Linked DNA regions of Homo sapiens. The protein of the gene in region 1 binds, or shares a complex with, the protein of each later gene. Each region holds a gene or a part of one and is shown in the gene's direction. Other genes may lie near its edges. The genes, in order: LRP5 and FZD8.

The links.
Region 2: LRP5 (region 1) and FZD8 share a complex: the UniProt entries of both Homo sapiens proteins name them as parts of the wnt-signaling complex.

The regions. Positions count from the first base shown.
Region 1 is NC_000011.10:68,415,919-68,431,142, forward strand, and holds part of LRP5 (low-density lipoprotein receptor-related protein 5 isoform 1 precursor), read left to right. Parts: intron 1-409; coding exon 410-609; intron 610-7,570; coding exon 7,571-7,779; intron 7,780-9,183; coding exon 9,184-9,374; intron 9,375-10,059; coding exon 10,060-10,269; intron 10,270-13,656; coding exon 13,657-13,782; intron 13,783-15,224. UniProt on the Homo sapiens protein: Acts as a coreceptor with members of the frizzled family of seven-transmembrane spanning receptors to transduce signal by Wnt proteins.
Region 2 is NC_000010.11:35,639,297-35,654,937, reverse strand, and holds the start of FZD8 (frizzled-8 precursor), read left to right. Parts: upstream 1-13,210; 5' UTR 13,211-13,508; coding exon 13,509-15,593; 3' UTR 15,594-15,641. Other genes in the region: zinc finger protein 469-like, read left to right, coding at 12,092-12,308, 12,525-13,210. UniProt on the Homo sapiens protein: Receptor for Wnt proteins. Component of the Wnt-Fzd-LRP5-LRP6 complex that triggers beta-catenin signaling through inducing aggregation of receptor-ligand complexes into ribosome-sized signalosomes.

The DNA.
Region 1 (15,224 bases):
GTGACGGGCGCCTGTAGTCCCAGCTACTCAGGAGGCTGAGGCAGGAGAATGGCGTGAACCCGAGAGGCAGAGCTTACAGTGAGCCCAGATAGCACCACTGCAGTCCAGCGTGGGCAACAGTGCGAGACTCCATCTCAAAAAAAAAATAAATAAATAAAAGAAAAATAAATTTATGATCTATTTCAAAAATAACACATGTACTTTGAAACAGCAGAGACACATATGACACGGAGAATGAAATTCCCCATAGCGCACCCCCAAGAGACAGCCCTGGTCCCCCCGTCTTTCCCGTGGACCTCCAGCGGGGCAGATGCTGAGCCGCCTGTTGTCGAGTGGCGTGCTATCCCGTCCTCCAGCTCCTCTGTGGCTTACAGACACCCACCTGCAGCCCTGTCTTTGCCTCCTCTAGCGCCCACCACCTTCTTGCTGTTCAGCCAGAAATCTGCCATCAGTCGGATGATCCCGGACGACCAGCACAGCCCGGATCTCATCCTGCCCCTGCATGGACTGAGGAACGTCAAAGCCATCGACTATGACCCACTGGACAAGTTCATCTACTGGGTGGATGGGCGCCAGAACATCAAGCGAGCCAAGGACGACGGGACCCAGGCAGGTGCCCTGTGGGAAGGGTGCGGGGTGTGCTTCCCAAGGCGCTCCTCTTGCTGGTTTCCAGGCTGCTGCCCCTGTCCTTAGCAGAGGGAGGAAACAGAGGATGGCTCTGGGTGAATGATGACTTGGGCTTCGATTATGTAGTCACAGGGTATGACCCTGAGATGCGTGGAACCCCGAGACTGTGATTATATGTAGAAACTGGGTTTCCCCGTTGTTTAAGTAGTCATGGTGGGGTCAGACCCCACAGGACTTTTGTCTTTTCAAGAAAGAAAATGGTCGTGTGTCATGCAGGGGTAGTTGGTACTGGTTAATCCAGGTTTATCCTTTATTTTGTGGGAACTGTACAGTCATTTCTGCTACAATGCTGTATATGCTCTTCTGAAAGACACCTATGCAAAATCGCACAGTAAAAATGACACAACTCATAGGGAAAGCGGGGCCAGGGCACAGCCCTCAAAATCTCCATCAATGACATGTAAGAAAAGAGAGGAACCTGGGAAATAGCAAAGTGCCTTTTGCACATTAAATGGTTAGCTATATCCCACAATACTGTGCATTCGTAAACGTTAATGCTGCAATAAATACGGCACTTCACCTTGGGAAGATCTGGAGTTGGCTTATGAGTGTGGAAGGGTGTAGCGCATGAGTTTTTGTGAAACACTGGAAGGAGGATTGTGGGAAATCAAATGGAAAGTTCTCACCCCAGGCGTGGAGAAGAGTGGGTCATGGCCCCAGCAGTGAGCCCAGGGAGGTCAGAGACGGAGGTGTGTGTGTGGGTGTGACCCTGCGCAGTTCCCTGCCGGCTGTAGTTTTTTGCATTCACTTAATGTTTCTCGTGGAGGAAATTGTGCATGAGCAAATGTGAAACCGTGCTGTGCTCAAATTGTCCTAATACATCATTGCATTGGAACAGATTGGCTTTTTTTTTTTTTTTTTTTTTTTTTTTTTTGAGATGGAGTCTCACTCTGTCACCAGCCTGGAGTGCAGTGGCATGATCTTGGCTCACTGCAACCTTTGCCTCCTATGTTCAAGTGATTTTCCTGCCTCAGCCTCCTGAGTAACTGGGATTACAGGCATGAGCCACCGCGGCCGGCCAGATTTGCATTTTTGAAACAACTGCTAGGCTGGGCGCGGTGGCTCACACCTGTAATCCCAGCACTGTGGGAGGCCGAGGCAGGTGGATCACCTGAGGTCAGGGGTTCGAGACCAGCCTGGCCAACATGGTGAAACCCCGTCTCTACTGAATATACAAAAATCAGCTGGGTGTGGTGGCGGGTGCCTGTAATCCCAGCTACTCAGGAGGCTGAGGCAGGAGAATTGCTTGAACCCAGGAGGCAGAGGTTGCGGTGAGCCGAGATCACACCATTGCACTCCAGCCTGGGCAACAAGAGCAAAACTCCATCTCAAAAAATAAAAAATAGAAAAACAAGTGCTGTAGCGGAAGTGAGCACTTTGCGGAGTCAGGCTTGTGTGGCCTGTTCCACAAATGATGTGCTCACGGCGGCCTCAGGCCCACCTGGAGTCTGCAGCATGGGGCACAACAGGTTCATTAGTGTAGAATTCCAGGACAGGCCTGGCTCCTAAGCAGCCTTCTTTTACAAAAACTGCAGAGCCCGCTTGTATCCTAGCACTTTGGGAGGCCGAAGTGGGTGGATCACGAGGTCAGGAGTTCAAGACCAGCCTGGCCAACATGGTGAAACCCCATCTCTACTAAATATACGAAAATTAGCTGGGTGTGGTGGCACGCGCCTGTAGTCCCAGCTACTCGGGAGGCTGAGGCAGAATTGCTTGAACCTGGGAGGTGGAGGTTGCAGGGATCTGAGACCATGTCATTGCACTCCAGCCTGGGCAACAGAGCGAGACGCCATCTCAAAAAAAAAAAACCTACAGAGCCACACGGCCTCTTTCTCCACCGAGTGTTGGTGTGGGAGCTTGTGTTATTGTGGTGAAATCTTGGTACTTTCTTGAGGCAGAGAGAGGCTGAGCGCCTGGAGAGACTTTCACATGGGTCGCCATGTCCGCCGTCGGTTTCGCTGTTGTGCTCCCCATCTGAAGGCTGGTGCCGTCCAGACAGGCTGGACGCCCCTTTCCACCAGATCCTTCCTCCCGCAGCAGTTTCTAGTTACGTTGTACTGTGAGGTCTGTGTCCTTGGTTGATGGCAAAAGTCAGCCGAATTGAAATTCAGAGCCATGCCTGGCTCCCTGGAGCTTCTCTCCTGGGCAGCTGTGATCATTGCCTCTGCTGTGGTGTGGGTGGTGGAAATGGATTCCTTTCATCTTGCTTGCTACAGGTGACTGTCACGTGGAGTCCTTTGGAGAGAGGGACGTGTTAATTGATGGATGTGGCTCCCATGCTGAGAAAGCTCCTGGGCGTACATTGCCTTAGAGTTTCACTGGAGCTGCGTTCTTTTATGGTGTCTGCTAGGCAGAAGTGATGAAGACTTGGAAGAAAACCCAGAAGGTTTTCCACTTAATTTGGAAAATGTGCTTTTCCCCTCCTGTGTCTTTTGCTAAGGTCCAGCCTCCTGCAGCCTCCCCGCTCTGTGGACTCTGGCTTTGATTCTTTATTAGGAGTCCCCCTGCTCCCCCAAAAGATGGTGTCTAAATTATCATCCAATTGGCCGAGGTTTTGTTTTCTATTAATTGTTTTTATTTTTTATTGTGGTAAATATATATAACATAAAATTTGCCATTTTAATTGTTTTGTTATTGTTGTTTTTGAGACAGGGTCTCACCCCAGTGCCCAGGCTGGAGTGCAGTGGTGCGATCATGGCTCACTGCAGCCTCAGCCTCCAGGGCTCCAGTGATCCTCTCACCTCAGCCTCTCTAGTAGCCGGGACTACAGGCATACACTACCACATCTGGCTGATTTTTTGTATTTTTTTTTTATTGTAGAGACCCGCTATGTTGCCCAGGCTGGTCTCAACTCCTGGACTCAAGCCATCCTCCCACCTCACCCTCCCAAAGTGCTGGGATTACAGGCATGAGCCACAACACCCAGCCATTTTAATTTTTTTTTTTTTTTTTGAGATGGAGTCTCACTCTATCGCCCAGGCTGGAGTGCAGTGGCGTGGTATCAACTCACTGCAACCTCTGCCTCCCAGGTTCAAGCGACTCTCCTGCCTCAGCCTCCTCCCGAGTAGCTGGGATTACAGGTGCCCATCACTATGCCTGGCTAATTTTTGTATTTTTTAGCAGAGACGGGGTTTCACCATGTTGGCCAGGCTGGTCTTGAACTCCTAACCTGGTGATCCGCCCGCCTCGGCCTCCCAAAATGCTGAGATTACAGGTGTGAGCCACCGTGCCCGGCCTTTTTTTGTTTTTGAGACAGGGTCTTGCCCTGTCACCCAGACTGGAGTGCAATGGTGGGCTCTTGGCTCACTGCAGCCTCCGCCTCCCAGGCTCAAGTTGTGCACCTCCACACCTGGCTAACTGTATTTTATGTAGAGACAGATTTCACCATGTTGCCCAGGCTGGGCTTGAAATGGACTCAAGCAGTCCACCCACCTCAGCCTCCCAAAGTGCTGAGATTACAGGCGCGAGCCACCGCACCCAGCCCATTTTACCTATTCTGCAGTTGACAGTTCAGTGGCATTCAGTCAGTTCACGAGGTAACCATCACTGCCATTCATCTCCAGACTACTTCACCTTCTCGGCAGATGTCCGAAACTGTCCGCATTGAACACACTCCTCATCTCCCTCTGACAGCCACCATTCTACTTTGTATCTCTCTCTGCCTTCTCTAGGTACCTCATGTAAGTGGAATTATACCAATATTTGCCCTTGTGTGACTGGCTTCTTTCATGTGACATGGTGTCCTCAAGGTTCATCTGTGTTATAGCCTGTGTCAGAATTTCCTTCCTTAAAGCCTGAATAATAACCCGTTGTAAAGGCTGGGCGCGGTGGCTCACACCCTCTAATCCCAGCATTTTGGGAGTCCGAGGTGGGCAGATCACTTGAGGTCAGGAGTTTGAGACCAGCCTGGCCAACATAGTGAAACCCTGGCTCTACTAAAAGTACAAAATTAGCTGGGTGTGGTGGCGCGCACCTGTAATCCCAGTTACTCAGGAGGCTGAGGCAGGAGAATCGCTTGTACCCGGGAGGCAGAGGTTGCAGTGAACCAAGATTGTGCCTCTGCAGTCCAGCCTGGGTAACAGAGTGAGACTTCCTGTCTCAAAAAAAAAAAAAATCATCGGATGGATGGACGGACCACTTCTTGTTATTTATCCATCCACGGGTGCTAGGTTTCTTCCACCTTTGGTTGTCGTGAATAAGGCCACTATGAACATTTCCTTCCGTGGTGAAGGTTTTGTACTAGTGAGGAAAAGGCGTGTTTGTGGTGTTGCATAGGATTCTGGTAAGAAAGTTTGCACTAACCATAAGTATTTGTACTACATTAAAATGAAAGCTCAGGGGCCGGGCGCGGTGGCTCACGCCTGTAATCCCAGCACTTTGGGAGGCCAGGGCGGGCGGATCATGAGGTCAGGAGATCAAGACCATCCTGGCCAACATGGTGAAACCCCGTCTCTACTAAAAATACCAAAAAACTAGCCAGGTGTGGTGGCGGGCACCTGTAGTCCCAGCTACTTGGGAGGCTGAGGCAGGAGAATGGCGTGAACCCGGGAGGCGGAGCTTGCGGTGAGCCGAGATCGCTTCACTGCACTCGAGCCTGGGCAACAGAGCAAGACTCCGTCTCACGCAAAACTCTGTCTCACGCAAGACTCCGTCTCAAAAAAAAAAAGAGTTCAGGGTTTATGAAACTGGCCAGCCGCGTAAAGTTTGCTGTGTTGTTTTTGTGCCCGGGAGGAGTGTGGCCAGGGTGTCACGTCACACAGTACACGTTTCTCAGATGGTGGTTCTCCAGACTGCTGTCCCAAAGTCTGTTTTTGCATCTGGTTCCCACAGACCCACCCTCCACGGTGAGCCTGATTTTGGCCAGGGTAGCTGGAATCTTGCTTGTCTTTCAGCCCGGCAGCTGTACCAGTCCAGGGTCCACAGCTAGTGGCTTTTAGGAAGGAATTTGTTCAGTTGGCTTTGACACATGGCCCCCTAGGGTCCACAGCTCTGTAGTGATGTGGATGTTGTTATCTACAAAGACACATGATCCTTCGTGTCCAGATGAAAGTGATGATGTCTTTGCAGCTGCCCAGCAAGGCTGTGTGTGTGTGTGTGTGTGTGTGTGTGTGTGTGTGTGGTGTGTGTGTGGTGTGTGTGTGTGTATGGGGGAGGGAGGCACCCTTTCCATCTGGGGGTGTGTGTGTGTGGGGTGTGTGTGTGTGTGTGCGCGTGTGTGTGGTGTGTGGTGTGTGTGTGTGTATGGGGGAGGCACCCTTTCCATCTGGGTCCAAGAGACTGGGCCTGGGGAAGACGCTTCTTTTTATCTACTTAGAGACTTTGTTTTATTTGTATTTTTTTGAGACAGGGTCTCACTCTGTCACCCAGGCTGGGGTATGGTGATATGAGCATAGCTCACTGCAGCCTCGGCCTCCCAGGCTGAAGCGATCCTCCCACCTCAGCCTTCTGAATAGCTGGGACTGTAGGCGTGCGTCACCATACTGAGCTATTGTTTTTTTTGTTTGGTTGGTTTAATTTTTTTTGATACAGATGGAGTCTTGCTATGTTGCCCAGACTAGTCTCAAACTCCTGAACTCAAGTGATTCTCCCACCTCAGTTTCCCGACATTCTGGGATCACAGGTGTGAGCCACTGCTGTCTCCCTGTTTTATTAACTGCTGAAAGACCTAGATAAAGAAAGTCTGAAAAGACTTACTATCAGAGCACCATCCTAAGATGATTCCCTCTGACTCAATGGAGAGGGAGGGGAGCTTTTCCTTCAGGCCTGGGTGGCAGGAGCCCAGGTGCTCCAGGCCCCATTTGCCCCAGGCCAAATCACTCGGGAACTTGGATGCAGCTGTCTTTCAGGGTAACCCAAAGGAACCAGATCCCCGCAGGCAGTAGGCTTCTGGGCTGTCCTCTCCTCCTACGTCAGCTCAGTAAGAGCCCTTCGAAGGGATGCTGTGTCGGAGGCCCCAAAAGCCCAGGCTCATCCCTGAGATGCACAGGGTGGGCTGGGCTTAGGCAGCGCTCGAGCATCTCCTGGACGGTGACCCCAGAGAGTGTGGAGACGGAGAGTCCTTGAGAGTCACTGAGAGACGTGGCTGCCCTGCCTTCCCAAGAGGGGCTCTGAGTCATTCCCCACACTCACCTGCCCCTACCCACCCTCACCTGGCCCCCAGCCTCACCTACCCCCACATCTGTACCGATCCCTTTACCCGCACCTTCCCTACCCACCCTCACCTCCCCTGTACCTTCACCTCCCCCACTCACCCGCCCCTGCACCCTCACCTGTCCCCCACCTTCACCTAACCCCCACCCTCACCTGCCCTCCCCTCACCTGGCCTCCTTCCGTTGGGGAAGGGGTTGTAAGGGGCGGCCCCCAAACTGTCTGTCCTGGTGCCCTGCAGAGAAAACAGTACGTGAGGGCCGCAGTCCAAAAGCTTGAGTCCTGGAAGGTGGAGGAGACAGGGATGTGTTGGGAAGGGCCCCATGGTCTTGGATCCCTTCTCGACTGTCAATGGGGCCTTCATGGGAGCGCCAGTCTAGTGATGCACAGCTGGGTGCCCGGCGGGTGGCTGAGGAGGCCTAAAGTCCGAGGCGGCAAGAGCTCTTCCAGAGGCTGTTGTCCTAATCGCTCTGGCATACTCAGGCGGGCACGTAGTTAGGAGCTGATTGGAGAGGAGAGACCCCCACACCAATACTGGGATTTGACTTTCAGGCTAAACTTGAGAAGTGTGGCCTCTGCTGTCCTGCCAGAGCTCTCCAGCCAGTGCCCAGGGCTCTCCAGCCAGTGCCCGGGGGTCTCCACCAGTGCCCGGGGGTCTCCGCCAGTGCCAGGGGTCTCCGCCAGTGCCCAGGGGTCTCCGCCAGTGCTCAGGAGTCTTGGTTTCTTTGTCTTACAGCCCTTTGTTTTGACCTCTCTGAGCCAAGGCCAAAACCCAGACAGGCAGCCCCACGACCTCAGCATCGACATCTACAGCCGGACACTGTTCTGGACGTGCGAGGCCACCAATACCATCAACGTCCACAGGCTGAGCGGGGAAGCCATGGGGGTGGTGCTGCGTGGGGACCGCGACAAGCCCAGGGCCATCGTCGTCAACGCGGAGCGAGGGTAGGAGGCCAACGGGTGGGTGGGGGTGCTGCCCGTCCAGGCGTGCCCGCCGTGTCTTCTGCCGAATGCCAGCCTCTCACAGGCTGGGGAGACTTTCCACCCTGGGGATCCAATGGGTGGCTTTCCAGGGTCCCAAAAGCAAACACAGGCTCTTTCACAGCCCCTCCAGGAAAGCAGAAAGCCCCAAGGGCTGGAAGGGAAGGGGGAGCTCTGCTGAGAGGTTACAAGGCAGCGCTGGCCGACGGGAGTTGCAGTTGATAGGTTTTGTATCATCCTTGTTAAACTTGAACCCTGTGCAGAAATCCCTTCCACGGCATGGGGGCTGCCTGTTGACTCGCTCCTGTTCCACCACAGGGAGCTCCTGGGCTTCTTCCTCCCAGAGGCCCCCGACGCTCCCACCTGTTGGTCGTCAGAGCTTCTGGTTGGTGGGAAGGCACCCAGGACCTTGAGGTCTCCAGAGAGAAAAGCCAGGGAAAGAGGGAGACCGAAACCCATGTGACATGAAACTCAGGCTCCAAACTGAGCACGGGAACGTTTGGGGACAGGAGCGCGATGGCCTTCCTCAGATAGCTGGGGGGCTGGCATGAAGACGGGAGCTACAGCCAGCACAGGTCCTGGGCCGGGAGCCCAGAGATTGAGCCCTGACTCTGTCACTTACTGGCCACGTGACCTTGGGCGGGTGGCATAGCCTCTTGGAGACTCAGTTTCCTCATTGGTAGGAGTGACGGCCACAGTGGTGCGGCCTCTGCAGCACACGGGGGGCTCGGTGGGCGGAAGCCCCGGGTCTATAAGGCGGCTGTGCAGGAGCCAGCCGAGCTGGTCTCCCAACAGCCAGGGCTCCGGGGTCCTTAGCAGCTGTGGGGGGCCTGCACCTGTTTCCCATGGCTGCTGTCAGAAATTACCAGAAGCCAGGTGGCTGAGAGTAATGGACACTTGTTCTCTCACAGTTCCTGAGGGCTGAAGCCCGAGATCGAGGTGTGGGCAGGGCCCTGCGCCCTCTGAAGGCTCTGAGGGAACCTTTGGGCTTCTGGTGGCTCCAGGCACCCCTTGACTTGTGGTCCTGTCACTCCAGTCTCTCTGTCTGGCTGCACATGGCGTGGCCTCTTCTGTACCATTGAAGGACACTTCAGTTGGATTTAGGGCCTACCCTCACCCATTGTGGTCGTATCTTGATCCTTCATGACATTTGTAAAGACCCTGCTTCCAAATAAGCTCACATTCTGAGGTTCTGGGGTGAGCGGGAATTTGGAGAGCATTGTTCAACTAGTATAGAATGTGACCTGTCAGCCTCGGGCAGCCCTGAGAGGCAGGGGCTTTCCACAGCCCAGCTGGGTGCCCTGGGCTCCGTGCTGTCCGAGGAGACGCCATCCCCACACCCGTCCTTCACCCGCCACCCTCCCGCAGGTACCTGTACTTCACCAACATGCAGGACCGGGCAGCCAAGATCGAACGCGCAGCCCTGGACGGCACCGAGCGCGAGGTCCTCTTCACCACCGGCCTCATCCGCCCTGTGGCCCTGGTGGTGGACAACACACTGGGCAAGCTGTTCTGGGTGGACGCGGACCTGAAGCGCATTGAGAGCTGTGACCTGTCAGGTACGCGCCCCGGGGCCTGCCCTAACCGCAGACACCCGGCCTTCATTGTCAGTAATGGCAGCAGCTGCCACATTGTCCGAGACCTGCCGTGAGCCCAGTGCCGCGCCAGGGGCTTTGTGTGTAGCGTGTTTTGTCCTCACACTGACAGCTGTAGGCTGGGGTTCTGAGTGAGCCCCACAGGGCAGAGGCAGAAAATGAGTCTCAGAGAGGGTGAGCGAGCTGCTTGGGGCCCCACAGCAGGAGATGGAGCAGGACTGCAGCCTAGCCTCTGCCCCCAGCACCTGCGCAAGAAGCTGCTCTGCTCTGGACTGTGTTAGGCTGCGAGGGCTGGAGAGAAATGAGAGTTGGTGCTTAGAGAGGGGGCGCAGGTCCCCATGGCTTTTCCTCTTATGATGAGGTAGATGGGTGAAGGGAGGGGCCATGCTTGCAGGGGCCAGTGACCGAGGCCCGCCGTTGGAACTGATGGCCTTCATCCCGAGCCCAGCCCAGGTGGGAGCAGGGCTTTCCGAGGGCTTGTCTTGGGTCGGCCTGCTTCCAGGGACTCTGCTGCAGCTCCCACCCCTGTCCAAAGCATGGAATCCCCCAGGCTCCCTGGCAGTCCTGTCAACCTCTGTCCTCCCAAGCTGAGTGTGGGGCAAGTTCTGGAGGTCAGCACTGCTCAGGGGGGCCCACGGGCTGCTTGCAGGGGCCAACCGCCTGACCCTGGAGGACGCCAACATCGTGCAGCCTCTGGGCCTGACCATCCTTGGCAAGCATCTCTACTGGATCGACCGCCAGCAGCAGATGATCGAGCGTGTGGAGAAGACCACCGGGGACAAGCGGACTCGCATCCAGGGCCGTGTCGCCCACCTCACTGGCATCCATGCAGTGGAGGAAGTCAGCCTGGAGGAGTTCTGTACGTGGGGGCTGGCAGTGGGGTGGGCAGGGTGGCCTCTAAACCCGACCCCTGGAGGAGGCTGGAGGCCAGTGCAAGATCCTGTGTGGCCTCAGCCAGGCGGTGGTCTCTGCCAGATGCCAACTGTTGCCCGCTGGGGTTCAGCGACATGTCCGAATGTCCCGAGGCCTCTGAGGTTGTTTTCTTTTGCCGCAGAACAAATCACCACGAACAGCGTTTTAAGACAACACCAACTCTTTTTTTTTTTTTTTTTTTGAGTCAGGATCTTGCTCTGTTGCCCAGGCTGGGGTGCCCTGGTGCAAACACAGTTCACTGCAGCCTCGACCTCTGGGCTTAATTAAGTGAACACCTTGCCTCAGCCTCCCAGGTAGCTGGGACTACAGGTGGGCACCACCACACCTGGCTAATTTTTTTTTGTAGAGACGGGGTTTCCCCATGTTGCCCAGGCTGGTCTGCAACTCCTGGGCACAAGCTATCTGCCTGCTGTGGCCTCCCAAAGTGCTAGGATTATAGGTGTGAGCCACTGGCCTGACAACACCCACGGATTGTCTCTCAGTTCTGTAAGGCAAAGTCCAGGCACAGCGTGGCTCACCTGGGTTCTCTGCTCAGGGTCTCACGGGGCCAGAATCAAGGTGTCAGGAACGCTGGGCCCTCAGCGGAGGCTCTGTGGAGAAATTAGCTTCCTTGCTCACTCAGCAGGTAGCAGTTGTGGGATCGAGGTTCTGTTTTCTCTCTGGTTATTGGTCGGGGACCACTCTCAGCTCCTAGAGGCCACCACAGGTCCTTGCCCCGTGGCCCTCTCTGCCTCAGCAGTGGGGGCTCCCTGCGTCAGTCCCTCCCACACCTTGAGTCTCTCTGATTTGCTTCTAAAGGGCCCTGTGATTCGGCTCAGCCACCTTTAGATTAGGTTAGCCTCCCCTTTGATAGACTCCAAGTCGGCTGATTAATAACCTTAATCACATCTGCAGAATCCCTTCTGCCACATAAGGTCATGACGCCGTGCTGGGGACTGGGGTGGGAAATTACGGGGTCATTTAGGATTCTGCCTGCCACTGCCTTGCTGTGTCCCAGGGCTTGGGGGAGGGGCCTCCACAGCTGGGACCACAGTCCTTCCTCCCCTCCATGGTAACCATCTGAGGATTACTTGAGACCAGCCTGGGCAACATGGTGAGAACCCATCCCTACAAAAAATACAAACAAAAAGGGACCAGGCTGGGCTTGGTGGCTCATGCCTATAATCCCAGCACTTTGGGAGACCAAGGTGGGCTGATCACTTGAGGTTGGGAGTTCGAGACCAGCCTGCCCAACATAGTGAAATCCCGTCTCTACTAAAAATACAAAAATTAGCTGGGTGTGGTGGCAGGCGCCTGTATTCCCAGCTACTGGGGAGGCTGAGGTGGGAGAATTACTTGAACCTGGGAGGCGGAAGTTGCAGTGAGCCAAAATTACGCCACTGCACTCCAGCCTAGGCAATAGAGTGAGACTCCGTCTCAAAAAAAAAAAAGGGCCAGGGGTGGTAGTGACAAAGAGACCCTATCCCAAAAAAACCGAACACTGAATCCTTGAGACTGAGTAAGGACACTGTGAAATTTTTCTGGGTGGGGCAGGGAACAGAGCGTCTTCTGTCATTTCTTCCACCTGGGTGTGGTCAGCTCTCCCTCCAAGCTGCCTCCTCTTCTTCTCATTGTCCGGGTGTTGGACACATTTGGTTAACTGGATAGAATAACGCGAGTTCCCAGGGACTTGGTCCATTTGCTATTTTATTTTATTTTATTTTATTTTATTTTTTTTATTTATTTATTTATTTATTTATTTATTTATTGAGATGGAGTTTCGTTTTTGTCGCCCAGGCTGGAGTGCAGTGGCGCGATCTCGGTTCACTGCAACCTCTGCCTCCCAGGTTCAAGTGATTCTCCTACCTCAGCCTTCCAAGTAACTGGGATTACAGGCACCCACCACCATACCAGGCTAATTTTTTTGTATTTTTAGTAGAGACGGGTTTTCGCCATTTTGCCCAGGCTGGTCTTCAACTCCTAGCCTCAGGTGATCCACGCACCTCGGCCTCCCAAAGTGCTGGGATTACAGGCATGAGCCACCACGCCTGGCACCATTTGCTATTTTAATTCCCATGTGTATTAGTGTCCCACGGCTGCTGTAACAAATGACCACAAACTGGATGGCTTAAAGCAACAGAAATGGATTCCCCCAATGTGCTGGAGACCAGAAGCCTGCGACCAAACTGTTGGGAGGGCTGTGCTTCCTCTGGGGGCTCCAGGGAGGATCTATTTGTTGGCCCTTCCAGTGCTGTGGGTGCCAGCGTTCCACACTTGTGGATGCGCCGCCTCAACCTCTGCCCATCTTCATGTGTCCATCTCCTTTGTGTCTGCGTCTTTACCTCTTCTTCTTGTCTGTGTTGCCTCTTATAAGGACGTTTGTCATTGGGTTTAGGGCCCACCCAAATCATCCGAGATGACCTCGTCTTGAGATCCTTAACCTGCAAAGACCCTTTTTCCAAAAAAAGGTTATGCTCACAGATTCTAGGCCTTAAGACATGGGTGTATCTTTCTGGGGGGCACTATCCAACCCCTTATACAATGAAAGACGGGAAGAGGGCCAGGTGTGGTAGTTCACGCCTGTAATCTCAGCACTTTAGGAAGCTGAAGCGGGAGGATCACTTGAGCCCAGGAGTTTACAAGTAGCTAGGCAACATGATGAGACCCCATTTCTACAAAAAGTGAAAAAAAAAAAAAAAAAAAAAAATTAGCCAGGCACAGTGGCAGGTGCCTATTGTCCCAGCTACTTGGGAGGCTAAGGCAGGAGAATGGCATGAACCCGGGAGGTGGAGTTTGCAGTGAGCCGAGATCATGCCACTGCGCTCCAGCCTGGGCGATAGAGCAAGACTCTGTCTCAAAAAAAAAAGCCAGGCATGGTGGTGCATGCCTGTAGTCCCAGCTACTCAAGAGGCTGAGGCAGGAGGGTTGTTCGACCCACGGAGATCAAGGCTACAGTGAGCCATGATCGCACCACTGCCCTCCAGCCTGGGTGACAGAGTGTGACCCTGTCTCAAAGTAAGTAAATAGGAGGAGAGACAAGTGGGCAGTTCAGACTGATGGTATGGGCACAGTAGAGACTGGTGCAGACAGGCTGGCCTGTGATGTCAAGCAACTTCTGTAATTGTTTCCGGCATCCATTTGTGTGTCAATTTCCGTGTCAGTAGGAAGACTCTGTAGGCTGCCAAGAGGAATAAGTGGGAGGATCCTCCCAGAGAGGCCGGGCCTGCAGGAGGGCCAGTTCTCATGAGTTCTCATTTGGCCCCTACCCTCCAGGCTGTGGTTCTGAGGTGGGAGACAGAGCCTGACCTCTGTTTGTCTTGTTTTGTCTTTGCAGCAGCCCACCCATGTGCCCGTGACAATGGTGGCTGCTCCCACATCTGTATTGCCAAGGGTGATGGGACACCACGGTGCTCATGCCCAGTCCACCTCGTGCTCCTGCAGAACCTGCTGACCTGTGGAGGTAGGTGTGACCTAGGTGCTCCTTTGGGGTGATGGACAGGTACCTGATTCTCTGCCTGCTAGGCTGCTGCCTGGCATCCTTTTAAAATCACAGTCCCTGTGGCATCCAGTTTCCAAAGCTGATTGTGTCTTCCTTTGCCCTCCTTTCTTTTCTACTATGTGCATTCGGTGCTATGAATTTTCCTCTAAGTACTGCGTTTCCTGCATCTCACAAATTTTGTTACATTTTCATTTTCAGGTAGTTTGAATATTTTTACACTTCTCCTGAGATGACATCTTTGGCTCATGTGTTATTTAGAAGTGTTGCTTAGTTTCTAAAGAGTTGGGGCTTTTCCAGCTGTCTCTCTGCAACTGATTTCTAATTTAATTCTACTGTAGTCTGAGAGCTTATTTTATATGATTTCTGTTATTTTAAATGTGTTGGGTGTGGTGTTTTTGTTGTTATTGTTTTTGTGTCTTTTTGTTTTGTTTTGCTTCGTTTGTTTTGTTTTTGAGACAGTGTCTTGCTCTGTCACTCAGGCTGGAGTGCAATGGCGCGATCTCAGCTCACCGCAACCTCTGCCTCCCGGGTTCAAGTGATCCTCTTGCCTCAGCCTCCTGAGTAGCTGGGATTACAGGTGCACGCCACCATACCCAGCTAATTTTTGTATTTTTAGTAGAGACGGGGTTTCACCATGTTGGTCAGGCTGGTCTCGAACTCCTGACCTCGTGATCCGCCCACCTCGGCCTCCCAAAGTGCTGGGATTATAGGCGTGAGCCACTGTGCCTGGCCATTAGGTGTGTTTTATCACCCAGCATCATGCAGTTTATCTTGGTGAATGTTCTGTGTACTCTTGAAAAGAATGTGGATTCTGCTGTTGTTGGGTGGAGTGTTCCAGAAACATCAATTAGATCCAGTTGGTTAATAGTGCTCATCAGGTTGTCTCTATCCTTCCTTCCTGACTGCCTGCTTGAGCTGTCAGTTATTGACAGGGGTGTGGAGTCTCCAACTCTAATGGTGGATTTGTTTATTTCTCCTAGTAGTTCTATCTTTTTCTCTCCTTCTACCCTTGATCCTCTTCTCCCCCTAGGGCTTCCTGGTGTTAGTGGTGGGAGAGTGGGGTAGTGAAGAACCTGGACTTTAGGGCCAAAGAGGCCAGGGTTCAAATCCTGGCTCTGTCACTTCCCAGTTGAGTGACCCTGGCTGGTGCCTGAATCTCTGTGAGCCTCCACTTCCTCCTCTGTGAAATTGAGAGCACTTACCTGGCAGGCTGTCATGGGCATCAAGTAACAGGGCACTCCACCTGGACCCTGACACGTGATGCACAGGAATGCCAGCTGCTATGCCATGGGTGTGGCAGTAGTAATAAAGTGACCATCTGTATCCTCACCACAGTGAAGCCTGTCCAGGGCTTTCTCTCCTATGCCCCCATGCCTCCAGGTGGCCTTGGATCCTGTTGGTTC
Region 2 (15,641 bases), on another chromosome or scaffold:
AAAAGAAACTCCTGAACATGTCTACATAGGTATATAATAAAAAATATTCAACACTAAGTGTACTCATGAAAATGTGGAAGTGATCACACTATTCATTAGTAGTAGAGTAGATTATATAAAGTGTGGCTTATTCTTACAATGGAATACTACAATCAGTTAAACATTTTCAACCAGATCAATATTAAGCAAACTTTTGAGTTTATAAAGCTATTTATAATCAGAACTTAAACATAGATATTTTATGTGTTTATAAGTTATAGTTTTTTGCAAGATTTTGTTTGGAAAAGAGAGTTCCACTTTTCCACAATGTTTAAAAACTGTGATATAATAAGTGGCCATGGAATTAGCTTCATCTGTAAAACATAACCCTTAAAACCTATCTTGGCCAGGCGCAGTGGCTCACACCTGTAATCCCAGCACTTTGGGAGGCCAAGGTGGGCAGATCACCTGAGGTCAGAAGTTCAAGACCAGCCTGACCAACATGGAGCAACCCCGTCTCTACTAAAAATACAAAATTAGTCGGGCGTCGTGGCACATGCCTGTAATCCCAGCTACTCGGGAGGCTGAGGCAGAAGAATTGCTTGAACCCAGGAGGCGGAGGTTGTGGTGAGCCGAGATTGCCCCATTGCACTCCGGCTTGGGCAACAAGAGCAAAACTCCGTCTGAAAAACAAAGCAAAATACAAAAAACCTATCTTGCATACCTGTCATAAGGCTTAGACATTGTAAATACATAGAGATGGAAACAGAGATCAAGGTAGATAAAGTGATACAGTCATGGGGCAGATTGTTATTGTCTACCCAAATCCACCTCCACTTCCCTTCTTTTCTTTTTTTCTTTTATTTGTTTATTTATTTCTTTATTTCTGATAGGGTATTGCTCTGTTGCCCAGGCTGGAGTGCAGTGGCACAATCACAACTCACTGTAGCCTTAAACTCCTGAACCCAAGGGATCCTCCGGCCTCAGCCTCCTGAGTAACTGGGACTACAGACATACACCACCATACCTGGATAATTATTTTTACTTTTTGCAGAGAGAGAGTCTCATTATGTTGCCCAGGCTGGTCCCAAACTCCTGGCCTCAAGCGCTCCTCCTGCTTCAAGCCTCCCAAAGCACTAGGACCACAAGGGTGAGCCACCACAACTGGCCCCTTTTTTATTTCTTATAACCCTTAATTTTATTCAGGTATTCACCCTCCTCCACATGGTTAGGTACTTCAGAGAAAGATGAACTAATTCCCAGCTCCAAGCATAGGGTAACCTGACTTAAGCCCATTGTGGTCATCCCATTCTTCCTGCCCATGATTAGTTTAGGGATGAGAATTCAAACTGATTCTACCAATGAAAGCTGCCAGGAGACTGCTGGGAAGAGGCCAAAATCCTGCCACCATCTTTTGACTTTGAGGTCACCATGGGTAAAACCCCTGAGGGGGACAGGGCAGAGAAACAGAAGGAACCTGAATCCTTGATGACGTTTTTGAAAATCTGTATCTATCAACCTGGAAAACTGCCCTACTTTTGTAAGATGACAATTTGTTTTGTAAGATGACAATTTCCATCCTGCATGAGCCAGTTTGAGTTGGATTAACTGTTATTTGTTGCTGAAACATCCTACATTATTTAAAAAGAAAGAAAAAGAAAAAGAAAAGAAAAGGGAGCAGGGGGCCAGCCCAGAGCCTAGCGCATAAAAGACCTGCTGTCATCCATGGCAGCTGAGATCATTATTCTATGCCACCTCCACTCATCCAGTCTCCTCTCTTGCCATCCTCCAATACATTAACAATATAACGCAGATCAAACTACTTTCCATCCTCATTCTGGTCACTCTTATTCTTAAGCAAAGCAACTATTCCCTATAGTTACCATTAGCATATATTCCAAACTTCATTTTTTCTAAGTACAGTTTTTATTGCTGACTTGGGAGATTTAGGAACAAGGGTGATATTCACCAGTCTGCAATTATGAATTATAGGTTAGGATTCACTCGGTTTAGTTATACCTACATTTTTACTCTAATAAAAAAAAATCAGGATGTACAATTCCAATAGATTACCTTCCAGCAGAAACCTTGGGTATTTGATTACCACAAGACAACCAAACTCCAGTAGAATCCTAATAGAAAATGAATCCTTTCAGATTTTTGACAGGTAAAACATCAGGTGAAGTTTTCTGTCCTTTTATTTTCAGATTGGAGGACAAGACCAAGAAGTTAACAAAATTAAGAGACAATGCCACAGCACATATACAGATAGACATCTTTTTCTGAATAGGAATCCAGAGACCACATGGATCACAGTGGAAAACATAATGAAGCCGGGTGCAGTAGCTCACGCCTGTAATCCCAGCACTTTAAGAGGCCAAGGCAGGCGGATCACTTGAGGCTGGGAGTTCAAGAAGAACCTGGGCAATGTAGTGAGACTCTGTCTCTAAAAAAAATTTAAAATAAATAAAAATAAATTTTAATTACCCAGGTGTGGTGGCATGCACCTGTAGTCCCAGCTACTCATAAAGCTGAAGTGGGAGGATCTCTGAGCCCAAAGTTTGAAGCTGCAGTGAGCTATGATCACACCACTGCACTCCAGCCTGGGCAACAGAGCAAGACCCTGAAGACCTATCTCTTGAAAGGAAGGAAGGAAGGAAGGAAGGAAGGAAGGAAGGAAGGAAGGAAGGAAGGAAGGAGGAAGGGAGGGAGGGAGGGAGGGAGGGAGAGAAAGAAGGAAGGAAGGAAGGAAATGATTAATAATCAGCAGCGTGATAGACCAACAAGTAAAAATATGAATCCTTCCTTTTTAGCCCCCAAGGTAGCAGGACATCCTATCACCAACTTAATCAAGGAAAATATCCTTCACCATGAGCAATGTTGCTTGCTAAGGCAGAGACTCTCGAATGAGGGTGAAAGCAGGAGTGTAATTGTAAGGCTGGGCACGGTGGCTCACGCCTGTAATATCAGCACTTTGGGAGGCTGAGGTGGGCAAATCACCTGAGGTCAGGAGTTTTAAACGAGCTGGACAACATGGCAAAACCCCATCTCTACTAAAAATACAAAAATTAGCTGGGCCTGGTGGTGGGTGCCTGTAATCCCAGCTACTCGGGAGGCTGAGGCAGGAGAATCATTTGAATCCTGGAGGCGGAGGTTGCAGTGAGCCAACATCATGCCACTGCACTCCAGCCTGGGTGACAGAGTGAGACTCCATCTTGAAAATAAATATATAGCCAGGAAGGTGAATCTGGTTCAGCTTGGGTAGCATAGGGGAATCCCCTGGTAGAAAATCCTGTAGTAACAAGTCCAGCAATCACATTCTACCAAAAGCTTGTAGGGAAGACTTAGTAAGCCAGGAGCTTCCCAAACGAGCACCTACCAAAAAAAGACAATTACCATGTTCAAAACAGAAATGACGCTCGAACAAATGGCTCCACATACCTCCAATATCTTCCAGAGAACAGAGAATGATGCAAAAATAAGATCATGTACAGAAAATAAGATGGATACTGCTGGAGGAAATATAAAGAACCAATAAACTGTAGAACTTTCAAAAGGGCATAGTTCTGTAGAAACTGATTTGTTTAGGGACATTAGCTGCAAAGAACTGGATATACCCACAGACTGAGACACCACCTGGTCCCCCTGAATTCTATGTTCTCTGTAGGTTCTTGGAAGCTGTTATTTACTCAACCCTCTGAGGTTCTGGAAAACATACAGGTGAGAAATAAATTTTCATCTCTGGCAGTCCTTATGCTTCCTAGCTGTTTAGTAAGGTGTTCCTGCATGTAATTACCCCACAGGGAGTTTGTGGGGAGACAAGGACATGAGCAAACATACAAACCACCCAGCTCGTTCTGCTAGACAGAGTCATTCTTTAACCTGGCCTCGTCTAGAGGCCCTGCAGGCAACTGGATTTCTTAAAGCGGGAAAGTACTCTTAAGCAAAGCAAGTTGTTCTGTAAGCAAAGCAAGTTGTTCTGGTGAAATAAATAACTAGAATCTTATTAGCAGATCCCACCTGCATGAAGTTATGGGGAAAAGAGGAGGAGAAAGGACTTAAGTTTTGTTGTTAATTAACACACGAAGAGCATATGAACCTGCTTCAATGACCACTAGGCTATAAAGCATCTGACCTTGGACAGCAGAAGTTAGTTAGACACAAAGAGATGGGGGCCTCTTGTCATGTGGTGCAACAGTCCCTAGGGTTTGGGGCAGACACCCTTGGTGACCTACCCAAGGCGACCCTACCCTTCTTCCTTACTAGCAAAACCCCGATTCTGTCCAAGTGACCCCTCGTGGTCAGGTCAGGCAGGGCTCAGTGATGTGACTTGTCACCCAATTCTGAACCATGAGAAATAAGAGAAAATCAGTTCCGGGAAAGCCTTCTTGGCACTGAAAATGAGGCACGAGAAGAAGAATGTCCCTCTTTGTGCCTCTGAACATTGGCATGTGAAGATGTGAGCTTCAGTCTGTAACCACTCTGTAATCATGAGGGCAACAAACCAACCTATCAGGCTGACAGAGAAAAAGATGGAAAGAACCCATCTTGATAACTTGTGGAGTCAGAGAATTAGCCAACTTCGAAGCCAGCCCACCTTCAGGTCTCGGGTAATGCAAGGTAAATATCTTTTCAGGCTTCCTGTTACTCCAAGTTGAAAAGATTGTAATAGATACTGAGCTCTATAGACTCCAAATGTAACCTATTTAAAGGTATGAATTATATCAACAGATTGAATACAAATAAAAATATTTCTGTCCAAGGAAAACTCTTGCTGTTGCATTAACAGCAAAGGCAGAGGCAATTTCCTACCATTGTGATTTGTCAGTGCTTTCTCGTGTGCCTAGAATTCTGCTCCTCTTCTCAAATAAACTTCTGATCATTCTTCAAAATTCCTGTGAAGTCCTTTCTTAGCTCTGTTAGGGACATTCACATGTTCCCTAATACTATTTCCGTGTACCATGTAAATATCTACTGAACAGCACTGGACTCATTCACCTGTGACTGTCCCATGTGAGTTTCCTGTAGAAGACGTAATGTCTTACTCATCTTCACATCCTTGCACTTAACAAAGGGCCTGGGACTCGGTTAGTGTGGCAGTTTTTAAATATGATCCCCAAATATTTGGCATTTCTTCCATTTTGTGGTAGGTCCATGCCCCTGCCTTTGAATCTGAGTGTGCTCATACCATCAGAGTGGGGCGGAAGTGATGCTGTGTGACTCTGAGGAGATGTCATATAAAGGGGCATGCAGTATTCACCTGGTTCTCTTAGGATGCTCGCTCTGGGGAGTGCCCCACCCCCCCAACCCCCTACTGCCATGTAAGAAGTCCAACCACTCTGAAGCTGCCATGCTGGAAAGGTCACGTGGGTGGCTCCAGGGGACGGTCAGCATCAACAGGCCACCACAGGAGTCCCCCCCAGCTTGGTTGTTTAGCCCCCTCAAGCCTTCAAATGACCCTAGTCCTGTGGACAGCTGAGTTCAATGGCAGGACAGGCACCAAGCAAGAGACCTGCCCAGTCAAGCCTTTCCTAAATTCCTGACTCTCAAAATTAGGAACAAAATAAAATGGTTGCCTTGAGCCACCATGTTTTGGGATCACTGCTGTACAGCAACAGGAACCAGAACAGTTGGTACTAAGTAAATATTTATTGACTTTACTTTGAACTCATTCTAAACTAGAATTTTTCAAACTGTAACTTGCCAGACAGTGTTTTAAGACAGCAGGCCCAGAGTTCATATTTATGTTGTGATACTATTTCAGTAAGCTGAACATATTAATGCATCATTTTTTTCTTTTATCTATATGGTATCATTTTACTACAAATTATACTTCTGTATACTATAAGCTTATCCCTATAGAAGTACATTTGCTTCTAAGAGCAACCAAGACTCATACAAAAAAAAACAAACAAAAAACAAATGCTGTCACCTCTAGAAAAAAAAAAATGCTGTGTTTACCTGAATCCAGTCAAAGATAGACTAAAATAGAAAGAAATGCCTTTGTCATCCCTACCATCTCCATGTCCTGAGTGCCCTAATAATTATAATTTGCATTACTGATGGAAAATTTTATCAGTAAATGGTGGTTTCAGACCACCATTTAAAATGGATCATTGTTACCAGACATAAACCCTTGCCTGGACCAATTTTTTGATATAAAGCTTCCTGCACATTCATAAGCAGTTCAGTTGGAATTCAAAAATTTCCCTTGCATTATATTTAAATTAGTCAATACAAAAAAAAAGTTATTCAGAGCATGATGTAGGCTTATTTTAAAAATAATAAAAACTTTTGAAAAATGAAAACAAACAGGCCAGGCCTGGTGGCTCACTCCTGTAATCCCAGCACTTTGGGAGGCCGAGGCAGGCAGATCACTTGAGGTTAGGAGTTGAAGACCAGCCTGGCCAACATAGTGAAACCCTGGCTCTACTAAAAATACAAAAATAAGCCGATCATGGTGGTGAGCACCTGTAATCCCAGCTACTGAGGAGGCTGAGGCAAGAAAATCGCTTGAACCTGGGAGCTGGAGGTTGCAGTGAGCCAAGATCACACCATTACACTCCAGCCTAGGCAACAGAGTGAGACTCCATCCAGGCAAAAAAAAAAAAAAATGAAAACAAACGAACAAAAAAGTTATATGGACAAACTAACAAAATGTTTCATGGATAGGCTTAAAAGAAACACAGAAACTAAAACTCCAGAATTGCATCAATGTTTTTTGTTTGTTTTTGAGATGAGGAGTCTCACTCTCTCACTCTTCTGGCCCAGGGTGGAGTGCAGTGGCATGATCTCGGCTCACTGCAACCTCTGCCTCCCAGGTTGAAGTGATTCTCCTGCCTCAGCCTCCCGACTAGCTGTGATTACAGGCACCCACCACCACGTGCAGCTCATTTTTGTATTTTCGGTAGACATGGGGTTTCACCATGTTGGCCAGGCTGGTCTCGAACTCCTGACCTCAGGTGATCCACCCACCTTGGCTTCCCAAAGTGCTGGGATGGCAGGCGTCAGCCACCGTGCCCAGCCTGTGTCAATGTTTTTAGTTAAGTCTCCAAATGGGAGGGGGAGTTCTGAAGAAAAAGGAAATAGGGAGTGAGTTCCACTACAGTGAATGCACACTGCAAATAAAATGCGCTGTAAACTGCTTGACGTTTATTTCATACTAAATGTACAAAGAACTGTATTGTGTGAACTTCAAAAAAAAAATGTAGATCTCAAGGTTTTCTTGGATCTAGATCATGCTTAATTTATAACCCTGCATAAATTCCGCTGTAAGACCAGGGAAGTTGACTCAATGGTATTGCTTGGAAGTTCACTGCTTTCACACAGTAATGTGCATCTGACACTGTGGGTTGTCCCTCCTCCCCTTCCTGGCTACCAGTGTCCCCATCAACAGCCACTCTCCAGATCCTCACTTTCACAGCCTCTCTTGCAGCTAAGAGTGGCCAAGTGACAGATTCAGACCAGGTTGCCCAAAGGGGAAGTTAGCCAAGGGCCTTCAGGGAAAGGCTGTCATTCCTAAGGGAAGAAAAATATCATAGCAGTCCTCCAGCCCTGGCCACAGTCCAATGTGACAATTCAGTGGTGGGAGGCCCCCTGTAACCAAAGGGGAAACCAACAGTCTAGAAGCCAACCTGCAGCCCTAACCTCCTGGAGCTGCAGAAAGAACTGACGGTGAAATGTCTGCTTCTAGACTTATTGATATGTTGAGATGTCCTTCTTGGCTAAGCCACTTTTACCCGGGAGGTCTTTACTGGACCTGAAATCTACCAAACTAATGCACAATGCATGCCATAATAAGAGCTTCAATATCTGGCAAATATTCCCATGTGGATGAGAAAAAAAATCAATTATTGATTTTTAAAACAAATTTTAGAATAATTATCAACTTAAATAATGGCAGTGCGGTCGCCGTATTCCAAAGCAGCAGCTGCATGTAAAGTGAGCATGGGCCTGCCAGCCAGTGGCACAGGTGGGCCTGTTATCTCCATCCATGTGCACCTTGGCCTGGTGACAGCAGACACAGCAAAGAGTACTTCCTTCCAACAGGATCTCTTTCCTGGCAGTGGAGAGAACAGAAGCAGCAGCACTTCAATTGAGTTTCATGTTAATAAGGAAGAATATAAAAATAATCTCACCTGTTTAAAGCTAGCAGAGATTGATGAGGCCAGTTCACCTCTACCTCCCCTTCCATTTATGGACTGAGAGACTCAAGACATAACCCTTTGAAAGGCAGATTTTTAAAACACCAAGATGCCCCAATATTACCATTAGAGGTTTTGTTATTGTTGTTGTGGGTTTTGTCTTTTTTTTTTTTTTTTTTTTTTTTTTGAGACAGGGTCTCTTTCTATTACCTAACCTGGAGTACAGGCATGATCACGGCTCACTACAGCCTCAAACTCATGGACTCAAGCGATCCTCCCACCTCAGCGCCTCAAGTAGCTGGGACCACAGGTGCGTGCTACAGGCCCGACTAATTTTTTTTTTTGTTTTAGACAGACTCTTACTGTGTTGCCCAGGTTGGAGTGCAGTGGCAAAATCTCAGCTCACTGCAACCTCTGCCTCCCAGGTTCAAGCAATTCTCTTGCCTGAGTCTCCCAAGTAGCTGGGATTACAGGCACCCACCACCATGTCCAGCTAATTTTTGTATTTTTGGCAGAGACAAGGATTCCCCATGTTAGCCAGGCTGGTCTCGAACTCCTGACCTCTAGTGATCCTCTGACCTCGGCTTCCCAAAGTGCTAGGATTACAGGCGTGAACAACCACCGTGCCTGGCCTTGTTTTTTTGTTGTTTTTTTTGTTGTTGTTGTTGTTTTGTTTTTGGTTTTTTTTTTTTTGGTAGACTCGGGTCTTACTATGTTGCTCAGACTGCTCTCCAACTCCTGGCCTCAAGCGATCCTTCCACCTTGGCCTCCCAAAGCACTAAGACAAACGTAAGCCACTGAGCCCAGCCAGTGATAAGAATTTTATATTATCTAATAATATAGTACTTAACTGTTTTCTTGAGAGAAAATAATATTTGGCATTTATTTATTTAGAGACAGGGTCTTACTCTGTTGCCCAGGCTGGAGTGCAGTGATACAGTCATGGCTCACTGCAGCCCCAGCCTCCAAAACTCAAGTGATCCTCCCACCTCAGCCTCTGGTGTAGCTGGGACTACAGGCACATGCCACCGCACCCAGCTCATGTTTGTATTTTTTGTAGAGACAGGGTTTTGCTATGTTGCCCAGGCTGGTCTCGAACTCCTAGACTCAAGCGATCTGCCTGCCTCAGCGTCCCAAAGTGCTGGGATTACAGGCATGAGTCACCGTATCTGGCCAATATTTGGCAGTTTATAACACCTGAGAAATTGTATTAGTTACCAAAGAGTTCCTCATTTAATCTTTGGAACGTATCATTCTGTTAGTATATGCCAGGCTCTCTCTTCCATCCAGATTCTTATATTGGATTTTTAGATGGTAATCCACTGGAACATGATTTCCCCAAAGTTTCTTAAATTTGTTACAGACAGTATTGATAGTCCCCTGTCTAACTCGGTAGCCAACGTTTTGTAAAACCTTCCCTCCTCTGAGGTAGATTCCTGATTCCAACTGTTTACATTATTTGCTTGCAGGCCATTCAGCAACAAGCCATCTGCTCAGAAATCCCTTTAGAAACTTCCCTACATTATTTATGTCACTACTAAAGCTATTTCCCCTCCCCTAAAAAACAGCTGCTTTACATACAATGAAAATATCATTATTTAGCCATAGAAGTTGATATATGTTCTGGTTACTTCTAGGTAACCCATCATTACCTTTTACGCACTAATTGGCTACAGAAGTCTCTCCCTTCTCTGAAAGACTACCAAGTAGCCGTTTAATTTAACAGTAGATGTAAAATGCGATTCTTATATTCTCTCAATTAAAAGTACATTTGTCATGACTTTTATGTAACTGGTTTTAACCTCACAAATCACTAAGATCTCCCAAATAGCTGATATGATTTTTGAAATTCTGAACTTCAGTCTGCTTATTTTCTCATGCAAACTTAACATACTTACCCAAAATTTCCACATTCCACATCATCAAACTTTTCATCTTGTCTCAAAAGAAAAAAGAAAAAAAATTTAAAGCCAATTAAGAGCCAAAATCAACCATTTTCAGCTTCAATTTCAATTTTCAAATGTCAGTTTGTTTTTACCCAATTCTAGCAAATTTATGTAGTGTAATTCTAAACTTCACTATTTGACATTTCCCCGTGGAAGAAAAGCAACAGAAACTTTTCACCATCTGTGTTGCTCTTGGAAACCAGCCCCTCCCATCTGTGGTGCGGGCAGTGCAGCACCCTTGCTGGTCTTTGGGGCTCTGCCTGCACCGCTGCCCTCAGATCAGCACTGGAACCTCTGGCAATTACCTGCAGCTGATGCGTTCTGGAGACTCGCCCTCTGGAAACAAGGTGCCAACCGCAGAGATAGTGAATTTCTACATTCAACATACAAGTGGGAATTCCGATTTGCAGGAGGTGAGAAAAGAAAAAAAATTTTTTAATCAAGTAAAGGTCTAGTCTGTATTTTTGAATAGCCCGTTTTCTGCTGAATCAGCTAATATTTCTGAAGCCTTTGAATTCCGAATTCCTACGGACTTTAGTTTTTCCAAAACAAAAGTGGGAAGGAAGTGTTGTTTTTCAGTATAAAGAGGTTCAACTCTATAGACTAAAACTAAAAAAGTTAAAAAGATAGGGGGGTATAACTATAGATTGGTGGATATGCCTAGAACACAGAACTTGCCAAAAACGGGGCGCTGGGGCAGGGTGCGGTCTGACAGTCTACTTGTAATATGTTTCATAATGAGGTTGCTAACTGAGCTACAGAAAGCAGGAGGAGGAAGACATAGATGCCATCAGCTCAAGCAATCTACAAATACTGCTGGTTATTTTTGTTTTATGACAAGAGTTGTTTCTGAACGGACAACCACGAGCTACCACCACCACCAGCAGCGCCCCGAAAACCGGAACTGGCCTCAAATGTACTTTTAATTCTTTTGCTCTGTCCCCACGCCCTCTGCAACTTTTGTTCTCCAACTGTACTTGTTCCGGTATGAAACCTGGCAAATAGCAAAAATCTTGAAACAAGAAGAGAGTGAGAGAGCGGAGAGAAAAGGGAGGGAAGGAAGGAGAGGGAGGAGGGGAAGAGGAGGAGGGGGGAGAGAAAGTGGTGGGGGAGAGAGAGAAGGAAAGGAGGTGGGGAGAGAGAGAGAGGGAAGACAGAAGAGAGGCAGGGAGGAAGAGGGAGAGAGGGGGACGGAGATGGGGAGGAGGCGGGAGGGAGGGAGAGAAAGAGAGAGAGAAACATATTCTGCCACCCTCCTGGCTAACTGAAATGCTTGTTCCCGAGATTACAGTAATTACTGCCCCAGCATGAGTTCCATACAAGCGCTAAATGAAACAGCACATCAATTAAAAAATAAACACTCCATTCTAGGAGAAAGACAGCCCCCTGGGACGCCCTAACAAGCGTAAATGAACCTGCCAGGCCGCCGGCCCGGGCCGCCCGCAGCCCCCCTCCCGGCCCGTCTTAAGGTGGCGGCGGAGCCGGCGGGGGCAGCGTTCGCTGGCGGTGGCCCAAGCGGCTGCTAAAAGCAGCCCGGGTCCGGCTCCGGCCTCGTGCAGAGAGCAGATACGTGTCGCGGAGTCCACGCCAGAGCGCAGCGCCGCCTCCCACCAGAGAAAAGGAGGCTCTGGCAAAAGCCTGTGAACTTGGGATGGATGAATAGACGTCCTGAAAGAACGAAGGGAAGACAGGGAATCCAGCCCCAGAGTTTCCAGCCTGTCCTATTTATAAGTTTCGAGGTTTGTTTTGAATTTTAGAAAGAAATTGAATGATTTTTCCTAAGAAAGCACGGCGGCTCGGGGCTTCCTATATTTTATCTCACCTAATTATCAAAGCCCCCTTGGAGATCTGTGCTATGATCACCCAACTCTCTAGGTGGGGAAACTGAGGCTCCCCCAGGTCACGCAGCGGAGGCGGGAGGAGAGTCTCTGGCGGGCATTTGTCCCCCGCGCCCCTCGCGCGCCCAAGGCTGGGCTCCGGGGCATCTCACCCGGGCCGTCCCGGGTCCAGCCCCAGTTTAGAATGACTCCACACCCCCCACATCTCCAAGTCTCAGAAACCATCGTTCTGAGAACCCCAAGGAGGACACCCTTTCCCGGGTCTTCTGCAGCGCCGAGCCCCGGCAGGCCTCCCCGGCGCTCGCCTGCTGCGAGACCTTCCTGCCGCCCCGAGGAGCACGAGACCCCAGCCGCCTGCAGATCACCCACATTTGCGGAGGGTGGCAGCAGGGGCTTGGCTGGTTTGAAACGCGCCGGGGAGGCGCGCGCTGCACCAAACCCCGTCCCTGTCCCCAAGGGCAGACTCGGGGTAAGGGGACCAAGACCTCCGACGCACTCAGCGCCATGGGGACAGCCATGGCCAACACTCTGTCTCTGCGGTCAATCCCAAGGTTACCAAAACTCTCCATCCGCAGAGAGCGCGCACAGCAGTGCGGACACTCGGGGACTGCCTTAAGGAAGGCTGAGCCCTGGGAGCGCGTGGACTCCGCCCTACCGCCCGGCGATTGGCTCGCGGGGCTGGGGGCGGAGACCGAGTCCGCGCTGTATAAATATTCATGAGCCGGCAGCGCGGCGCGAGCGGGGCTGGAGCCGGGAAGTTGGGCTAAGGGCGCTGCTCCCGCCGAGGAGGAGGCGGCGGCTGGGCGCGGGCCGCGCCACTCAGGTGTCCGCTCCGCCTTCCGGTCTGGATTTGCTCCTGGGTGTCCAGCAGGAAGGAGACTGTGTGCACCTCGCCCGACTGCGGCCGGAGCGCGGCGCTGACTTTTCCAGGCGGCGGGGGTCCGTCTGTCCCGGCGGCGGACGGACGAAGGACGGACGCCGGAGAAAGAGGGCGGCGGCCTGGGCCGAGGCGGGTCCCCAACTCCGGCGGCGGCGGCGGCGGCTTGGCCTTGGGGGCGGGCATGAGCCCCCGGGGGCCGAGTGGTGGCCGCCAGGGCTGACCCGGCGCGGCAAGCGGCCCGGCCCAGCCATCTTGACTGCGCACCGCGGCCCCAGAGGAAACTTGCGGCGCCTCCGCCCTCTCTGTCCGGCGGAGTCACCGCCGCCCGGCGCGGCGGGGAGAAGTGGTCGGGCGCGCGGAGAGGAGGCGAGCGAGCGCGGGACGATGAGCCGAGGCCCGGCCGCTCTGCGCCGCGAGGGCTGAGCGCGACCCGGGGCCAGCAGAGCGGACCTACGGACTGTGGCGCGCGCCTGCAGCCGCCTTCAAACCCCCGGAGCGGCGGAAAGGAGTGCGGAAGGGCCCTGCCCAGGCTGCGGGCCGCGCCGCTGCGGACGCGCCCCTAGAAGGGGTTAGATTATCGGCAGACCCCCCTCCCGGGCGAAGCATAAGGGAGACCCCAGATCACCCGCTGTACCCGTCTGCGGCTCTCTCGTGGGCCCCCCCCCCGGCACCCCTCTGCGCGCCGCCTGGAGGGCGAGGGCACCGGGCCGAGGCGCACAGCATGGAGTGGGGTTACCTGTTGGAAGTGACCTCGCTGCTGGCCGCCTTGGCGCTGCTGCAGCGCTCTAGCGGCGCTGCGGCCGCCTCGGCCAAGGAGCTGGCATGCCAAGAGATCACCGTGCCGCTGTGTAAGGGCATCGGCTACAACTACACCTACATGCCCAATCAGTTCAACCACGACACGCAAGACGAGGCGGGCCTGGAGGTGCACCAGTTCTGGCCGCTGGTGGAGATCCAGTGCTCGCCCGATCTCAAGTTCTTCCTGTGCAGCATGTACACGCCCATCTGCCTAGAGGACTACAAGAAGCCGCTGCCGCCCTGCCGCTCGGTGTGCGAGCGCGCCAAGGCCGGCTGCGCGCCGCTCATGCGCCAGTACGGCTTCGCCTGGCCCGACCGCATGCGCTGCGACCGGCTGCCCGAGCAAGGCAACCCTGACACGCTGTGCATGGACTACAACCGCACCGACCTAACCACCGCCGCGCCCAGCCCGCCGCGCCGCCTGCCGCCGCCGCCGCCCGGCGAGCAGCCGCCTTCGGGCAGCGGCCACGGCCGCCCGCCGGGGGCCAGGCCCCCGCACCGCGGCGGCGGCAGGGGCGGTGGCGGCGGGGACGCGGCGGCGCCCCCAGCTCGCGGCGGCGGCGGTGGCGGGAAGGCGCGGCCCCCTGGCGGCGGCGCGGCTCCCTGCGAGCCCGGGTGCCAGTGCCGCGCGCCTATGGTGAGCGTGTCCAGCGAGCGCCACCCGCTCTACAACCGCGTCAAGACAGGCCAGATCGCTAACTGCGCGCTGCCCTGCCACAACCCCTTTTTCAGCCAGGACGAGCGCGCCTTCACCGTCTTCTGGATCGGCCTGTGGTCGGTGCTCTGCTTCGTGTCCACCTTCGCCACCGTCTCCACCTTCCTTATCGACATGGAGCGCTTCAAGTACCCGGAGCGGCCCATTATCTTCCTCTCGGCCTGCTACCTCTTCGTGTCGGTGGGCTACCTAGTGCGCCTGGTGGCGGGCCACGAGAAGGTGGCGTGCAGCGGTGGCGCGCCGGGCGCGGGGGGCGCTGGGGGCGCGGGCGGCGCGGCGGCGGGCGCGGGCGCGGCGGGCGCGGGCGCGGGCGGCCCGGGCGGGCGCGGCGAGTACGAGGAGCTGGGCGCGGTGGAGCAGCACGTGCGCTACGAGACCACCGGCCCCGCGCTGTGCACCGTGGTCTTCTTGCTGGTCTACTTCTTCGGCATGGCCAGCTCCATCTGGTGGGTGATCTTGTCGCTCACATGGTTCCTGGCGGCCGGTATGAAGTGGGGCAACGAAGCCATCGCCGGCTACTCGCAGTACTTCCACCTGGCCGCGTGGCTTGTGCCCAGCGTCAAGTCCATCGCGGTGCTGGCGCTCAGCTCGGTGGACGGCGACCCGGTGGCGGGCATCTGCTACGTGGGCAACCAGAGCCTGGACAACCTGCGCGGCTTCGTGCTGGCGCCGCTGGTCATCTACCTCTTCATCGGCACCATGTTCCTGCTGGCCGGCTTCGTGTCCCTCTTCCGCATCCGCTCGGTCATCAAGCAACAGGACGGCCCCACCAAGACGCACAAGCTGGAGAAGCTGATGATCCGCCTGGGCCTGTTCACCGTGCTCTACACCGTGCCCGCCGCGGTGGTGGTCGCCTGCCTCTTCTACGAGCAGCACAACCGCCCGCGCTGGGAGGCCACGCACAACTGCCCGTGCCTGCGGGACCTGCAGCCCGACCAGGCACGCAGGCCCGACTACGCCGTCTTCATGCTCAAGTACTTCATGTGCCTAGTGGTGGGCATCACCTCGGGCGTGTGGGTCTGGTCCGGCAAGACGCTGGAGTCCTGGCGCTCCCTGTGCACCCGCTGCTGCTGGGCCAGCAAGGGCGCCGCGGTGGGCGGGGGCGCGGGCGCCACGGCCGCGGGGGGTGGCGGCGGGCCGGGGGGCGGCGGCGGCGGGGGACCCGGCGGCGGCGGGGGGCCGGGCGGCGGCGGGGGCTCCCTCTACAGCGACGTCAGCACTGGCCTGACGTGGCGGTCGGGCACGGCGAGCTCCGTGTCTTATCCAAAGCAGATGCCATTGTCCCAGGTCTGAGCGGAGGGGAGGGGGCGCCCAGGAGGGGTGGGGAGGGGGGCGAGGAGA